Linked DNA regions of Homo sapiens. The protein of the gene in region 2 interacts with the protein of the main gene of each other region in a pairwise test. Each region holds a gene or a part of one and is shown on either strand. Other genes may lie near its edges.

Region 1 (3,500 bases), on a different chromosome or scaffold from region 2:
TTGTCTGCTTTCAGTAAACTATCTCCAGTTACCCAAGAAAGAAATTACAATCTAAACTGCAGCTGCTCTGGTCCTAGAGCTAACTTTATTAAAAGTAAATCAGGTTGTTTTTTTTTTTTTTTTTTTTTTTTTTTTTTTTTTTTGAGACGGAGTCTCGCTCTGTCGCCCAGGCTGGAGTGCAGTGGCGGGATCTCGGCTCACTGCAAGCTCCGCCTCCCAGGTTCACGCCATTCTCCTGCCTCAGCCTCCCAAGTAGCTGGGACTACAGGCGCCCGCCACTACGCCCGGCTAATTTTTTGTATTTTTAGTAGAGACGGGGTTTCACCGTTTTAGTCAGGATGGTCTCGATCTCCTGACCTCGTGATCCGCCTGCCTCGGCCTCCCAAAGTGCTGGGATTACAGGCGTGAGCCACCGCGCCCGGCGTAAATCAGGTTTTTTAAATGTTTGCCAAACCTTATCACTGACTTTTATAACAAAATTATTTACTATAATCATTAGGGAATATTTAAGTTCTGCTAATACTTAAAATTGCAGAGTGCTAAAACCAGCAGTGAGTTTAGAATCAAGCTAAGCTTTATTGTTGCTACTATTTGAGGCATATTAGTTGACTGGTGTTCATATGCAAGGCAGTCTACTGGGTGCAACAAGGGTTAGAAGGATATTTTTAAAAAACTGACCCTATTCTCAGGATGAAAATAATACACTAGTAATAGTCTGCTCTGTTGGTTAACTCCTCGTAAGGAGGTACAATTAAAATGCTGTAGTGTTGCAAGGGAAGGAGAGGAAGAATCATATTCCTTCACTAGCAGGATCAAGAAAGCTTTTATAGAAATATACAAAATCTTCACTTCTTGAAGGATTGGTAAAATTTAATAGCCAACATTGGGCACTTATTCATTCTCTGAGTAAATATTTATTGCATGCTTATCTTGTATCAAGCATTGTGATGAAAGCACAAGAATGAAAGAGGAGGGAGAATGTTTAGAGAATAAGGGCTGAAACACAGATTTTGTAGGGAGCGTAGGGGAGACTGAGAAGACAGGTTCAGGTTAGTAAGGGCGCTCATATTTTGACACTGAATGTTAACTATGTGCACATCATGCTAGCTATTCTAAATCAGGCATTTTCAAATGGAAGCAGGCACTGACATTTTTGAGCAAAGACGTGATGTTATGAGATAAATATCTTAGGGGACTTTTTTATATTTTTATAGCAGGATATCTATCCTATGGATTGAAAAAAGGAAAAATCAGAAGGTAGTCTTTATAGGAAGCTATTCCAGCAGTCTTAAGGTAATGAAGTCCAGACCAAGGTGCTAAATAAATGGAAAGAAATAGGTAAACATGAGCAATGGCTTGGGAGATAAAATTGCTCAAAGTTGGTAATTTGAGTTGGGACTCAGTAGAAAATAGATTCAGCTGACGTTTATGAGCATTGTATTAGTAAGGCCTTGTTGAACACTTTTACATACAACTTTCAAGACTAGGAAACTGGGAAAATAAGAGTGTCTTTAACAAAGTTTTAAGAGTTATTTTTAGTTTGGCCTTAGATGTACATACATCTTTTAAAAATCTAACATAGTATGCACATATTAGACTCTTCGTTGATGGTTATTTCAAAGTAGTAACATCATGATACGGAGGACAAGGATAATATCTTCTTTAGGACTTGTTAAAATGAAAAGGATACTGTATGTGGGCAAGGGATAAAAATCCATTTTATTTTTATGGTCTCATATTGATTGCATTTGTAAAATTTGACTCCTTATATATTCAAATGCCTCACATGTTCTTAATAGAATGTCTTTTAAACAACAGCGTAGTATAGCAAAAAGAGGATTGGACTGAAAGTTGGGAAACCTGGGTGACCTTCCGGCTGACATAGTGGGTGGCCTTGGGCAAGTCACTTATCTCTCTGTTCTTCATTTCTTCCATCCAACCAAACAAAAGGAGGAGCTAAAGTTTTACATCTCCAACATGACAAGGTCATTGATGATAAATGAGCTACTATCTAAATAACTTTAAAATAAGAGAACTCTATAAATTTAGAGGTTTACCACTATTGTATGTATCTTAATAGATGAATCTGCACCTAAAAATATTTAATTACAGAAGCTTTTTTTCTCAAACTTTGGAAAGGTATCAAATTTAATTTGGTGCTTGAAATTAGGATTTATGGCATTGGTAGAATTCATTGATTATTTATGATCTTCATATATCACATACTGTACTAGAAGAATAGAGGTTATGATTGGACTAGACAGAGAGTGCCAGAGCAAGTATCTGTGGGATGCTGAGATGAAGATATTCAACTTTCTATCTAACAAAGTAGATCCAGAGCCTGGAAGAAAAACAGAGGCTAAGATACAGATACTGGAAACCCTCATGCAGGGACTTTTTTTTTTTTTTTTTTTTTAAGCTTTTGAGTGTTTCACACAAGGTATGTTACAGAAGACAAGTGCCTAAGTCAGAACTATGAGAAATATTGCCATCTGACAGGTTAGATTAAAGAAGGAGAGCACAGCATCTGGGAAGACTGAAAAGGGAACCATAGAAATAGGGGAAAAAAGGTGAAACATGGGAGATGTCATTGAAGTCAAGAGAAAGAAAGCATCAGGAAAATTCAGGTGTCATGGAGAAAGCAAGTAAGATGGGGACAGTGAAGTTTGCTAGACATGATACAAGTAGATCGTTAGGTGACTTACTGATACAACGTTATAAGTAGTGACCCCTTAACTGTAGGAGTTAATTCATACGTTGTAAAGTTCTCCAGTATTGGTATTCATTGATCTTAATTCTCTCCTTTTTAAAGAGAAAAGTTGCAGACCTGAATATGAAGAGGAGCTTCTCTTCAGTCATATCTTAATTTTCCATTTAGCCTACAGATGCATGAAGTAGAGAATTGACATCATAGCTACTGGCAGCCTCTGTAGCTGTTAAGAAGAGTGTTCACTAATGAGTTTTATATAAACAGGTTCTCTCTCAATTTTGGATTCGGGTAGTAGTCTTTACAATCTTGAAATGTGCATGCTGCACTACCCCAGGTATACCATTGACAGTATGGGGAAAGGTTCTAAGTCTAGTCCTTTAAAAAAAAAAACACACACACACATTGTATAAAGTGATTATTTCAGACATAAAGTCTGACTCTTCAAACAGTTATGAGTTAAACTTATACCTACTTGGGCTTTATAATAAATGAATGTGCTATCTTTTTATTATTTACTGAGGAGAACAGATTAGAGGCGGACTAGAAAATTAGGGAGAATGACCAATTGCTTGGCATAATTAAATGGTAATTTTCAAAATTAAGTTGTTTGAGATCTTTTAAAATTATTTACATTATATATTAACAAATATTTACACAGGTTGAGCATCCCAAATCCAAAATGCTCCAAAATCTGAAACTTTTTGCTCAAAGGAAATGCTCATTGGAGCATTTCAGATTTCAGAACTGGATTTCAGATTTCAGAACTGGGGATGCTTAACTGATAAGTATA
Region 2 (3,500 bases):
GAGGGCTTGAGACACACTTCAGCAGGGTCCCTCACCAAGTGGATCACACACCAGGCAGGCACCACGCCAGGCGGGTCGCACAATAGAGTGGGATCATATATCGGGCGTTTGTTTCTCCATCTGCAAAGGGCTCTTCTGAAGCAGGTGACTCCTCTGCCTCATGTTTCCCAGCTCCCCCATGCAGAGATGAAAAAAATAAATACATATATACATAAGGATTGCAACATGTGAAAAATGAGAAGCCATTAAGGGGCAGGAGCCCTGGAGGAAAGGCCCACCCCTCATCCACCATAGTGCAAGTGCATGCAGGTGGTCACCTGTGCTCTCCACACGCTTCCTGCTTCCATGAGGGCATGAGGGCACGTGCAGGCTCAGAGCAGGTGCACAGCCTGATGCCAAGGTCCTGCTGGAGCGGAGGGTGACAGACCTGCTGAGTGGGGAGCCTGTGGCGGGAGATCGCTTCCAGACCATTCATTGTTCAGCTCAAGGCAGAAACAGAGAATTCATGGAGATGTCAGTCACAATTTTCTTTTACTTTATTTGGAACCAGTGTGAGCTAATAGAGTGTGTTTTGTGTGTTGTGTGCATATGTATATGTGTGTTGTGTGTCTATGTGTTGTGTACATATATGTTGTTTTTGTGTGTCTGTGTATGCATGTGTGTGTCTTGTGTCAGTATTTTGTGTTGCTTGTTTTGTGTTGTGTGTTGCATGTGTGCTTGTGTTGTATAGGCACCTGTATGCATGTATATATGTGTGTTGTGAATGTATCGTGTGTTGTATGTATGCATTGCATGTGTCTATTTGTTGTTTGTATGTGTGCATATGTGTGTGTGTTGTGGGTCTGTGTCATATATGTTTTTGCTTTATGTGTGTCCGTATGCATGTGTGTCTTGTGTATTTTCTGTTGTGTGTATGCTTGTGTTGTATAGGTGCCTGTGTGCATGTATATGTGTATGTGTGTTGTGTGTATGTGTGTGATGCATGTGTTTGTATGTGGATACAATGGCTTACAAAGGGGACTGTTATAGGGGACCTTTGAATGTAGTAAGTTCTCCCTCATTAGAGGTGGATAAACATTATTTCTTAGAACATAGGAATTTGGGTGAAGCTTGCTTAATAACAAAACATGGTGGTTGCAGGTCATTAGTTCTTTTGCCCCATGAAAAGGGATCATCCTCATGTGGGGCAGCTGGAATCCCTCCGGCCCATATGGGACATTGTTCTGACTGCTTCCCTTCTGGATCAGGAGCCTTTTCTGCGCACTCTTCCTCGGCAGGGTGAGGTACCAGGCCTTCCCTGCCTTCATGCACCAGCTGCGGCTGTGGCCATGTTCAGAGGAGGCAGGAGTGCCACACTGGACTTGCTAAGGGGCACAAAGAGCCTTCCCATTTTCCCAGCCTGCACCTGTCACATAATGCTCCCCTCTCAGGCATGAGCTAATCTCCTAGTCCTTATACTACAGTCTTTGTTTGCAGAGTTTTGGGTTAGAAAACACTTGAAAGTGGTTGATCCCAATAACAGAATCGAATTCTTGGCCAAAGCAAACCTCCTTTTCTCAAGGAAGGATGCCAGCCGAGAGGCAAGTTACAGATAGCAATGAAGAAATAACCTGAGGCTTTTCTCTGTCTTTGTGGGTGATAACATCAGCGGACCACCAGCTAGGCGTTAAGGAAGGGATAAGATGCAGCTAGAAGAAGGCCAGAAGGCTAATCCGTTCCTGACATGCAGAGCTAAACACGCTACCCTGAGATTTGCTCCATGGTTGGTTTGCAGGGCTCTTACTCCCTGCCTGCAACTTGGCTCTGACAGTGGTAGTTTCAAGAACTCCGTTGTGCGTTTGAATGCTCTGCTCAGATTTCATGGCCGATTGAGAGAACCTGGTAAGTCAGTGTCATGTCCAGTAGCTTTTGCACTGTGCCTTGGCAAGGTTATCCGCTTAGCAGGTAGTCCAAGCCAGTGTCTAACAGAATAAGTATTTCTTGGCTGAGCTGAAGGAAAGAGCAGAGGCCACCAGCCACATTTGAGGAGACTTTCTTCTTACTTCCAAAGACTAAACAACAACTGTGTAAAATTACTTCTGTCATGGTCAGGGGCCAGTAGGTCATAAGAGAAAAAAAAATCCACTCAAGCAAAAGCTTAAATAACAAAGGATGTGTTATGAGGATTATAGGGATCTCACAGAACCCAGCTGCAAGACCTTGGAGGAAAGGGAAGGTCAGCACTTTCATGCCCACTCTCTCTCTCACCTGTGTTTTTATTTTGGTCTAATTCATTATTGTCTTCCTATGGATAAATGCCATGCCCAAACATTTGCTTATACATAGTCCATCAGAGGGCTTCATTCCCCAATTTTATATGTGCCCCCACTACACATCTTCCCAAGCATAACTTTGTCAGTCTTGTCTTTCTGGTTTCAAGTTCGAGAGAGAGAGAGTAATGCTGGCTGGCTCAGCATTGCTGAGATTGATGGCTCTAATGGCAGCAGCTGTCTCATTTCAATCAGCTGTTGCTGTGGCCCAGCGGGCAGGGTCATGGGCCACCTAGTGCTGTTCATCATCTCGGGCTTGGGGCGGAGCAGGTTCTCTGAGAGGGAGGGAGGGAGGGAGGAAGCAATGGATCTGCCACTGCTGTCAAGCATAATGTCATCTTCACTAAAATTAAAGGCTGGCATGAAATTGGAGGTTATCTCCAATGATCTGCCTGGTCAAACTATTTGCAAAGAAAGTTGGTCTAAATCAACAAAGTGAAAACAAGCTCTGGCTGCTTTTTGGTCTTCCAGTTTCCTCCAGTTGGGTTGGGTGGAGGAAGAGATGAAGACTCTCCAATCAAGATGCTTCTCCCTCTCCTGCTGTCAGGCTTAACTCCTCCCTCCAAGCCAAGACTATGGCCTGAGGCCAGGACAGATCCACTCCTGCAGACCCAGAAAAGGCAGGGCTGGCAAAACCACAGCCTGCAGCCCTGCAGTGGGACCTCATCTAGATCAGAGGCTTTTATCTGTATTGCCAGTAATCAGTGGAGACTCAGTATTACAACTTAAAAATAATGTAATAAATATTTTTCATTTGAATGTGTAACACTTGTAAATGATTCCACTAACCAGTAATTTCCTTTGTCGTGCAATTTATTATTGTTCAGAAGTTGATTCTGAACAGCCCAAGGGCCCATCTTCCTTTTATAACAACACCTACAGGAGAAAAAAAAAAAAAGCAAATCTTCTTACGGATTGTTTAATACTGGCCCTGTTTTGTCATTTTGTTGTTGTTTTATTTTGCTTTTTTGCATCTTTGTGAGAATTCATTTTCTTTTATACTCTTGGTACTTCTTATCGCTTATTTCTACACTGTTTGAAAGGTTTGTCTTTGTTCTTGTAGCAATAGTTTTGCCGTTGTGTGTCTACTGTACTAAGACTTGGGGCTCAATGAGCTTTTTGGCCCATTTGATTAACTTACATATTTTTCTCCATAGGAAGCAGCCATCAGTTGCTGGGTCCAGTTCAGTG

The links.
Region 1: the proteins of TMEM132D (region 2) and NAMPT interact in a two-hybrid assay, tested with the Homo sapiens proteins (one large-scale study listed by BioGRID).

Annotation. Positions count from the first base shown.
Region 1 is NC_000007.14:106,264,484-106,267,983, reverse strand, and holds part of NAMPT (nicotinamide phosphoribosyltransferase precursor), read left to right. Parts: intron 1-2,812; coding exon of another isoform or gene 2,813-2,831; exon of another isoform or gene 2,832-3,500.
Region 2 is NC_000012.12:129,075,026-129,078,525, reverse strand, and holds part of TMEM132D (transmembrane protein 132D precursor), read left to right. Parts: intron 1-3,450; exon of another isoform or gene 3,451-3,466; coding exon 3,467-3,500. UniProt on the Homo sapiens protein: Regulate neuronals morphology via inhibition of the WAVE regulatory complex (WCR), a complex that controls F-actin cytoskeletal dynamics.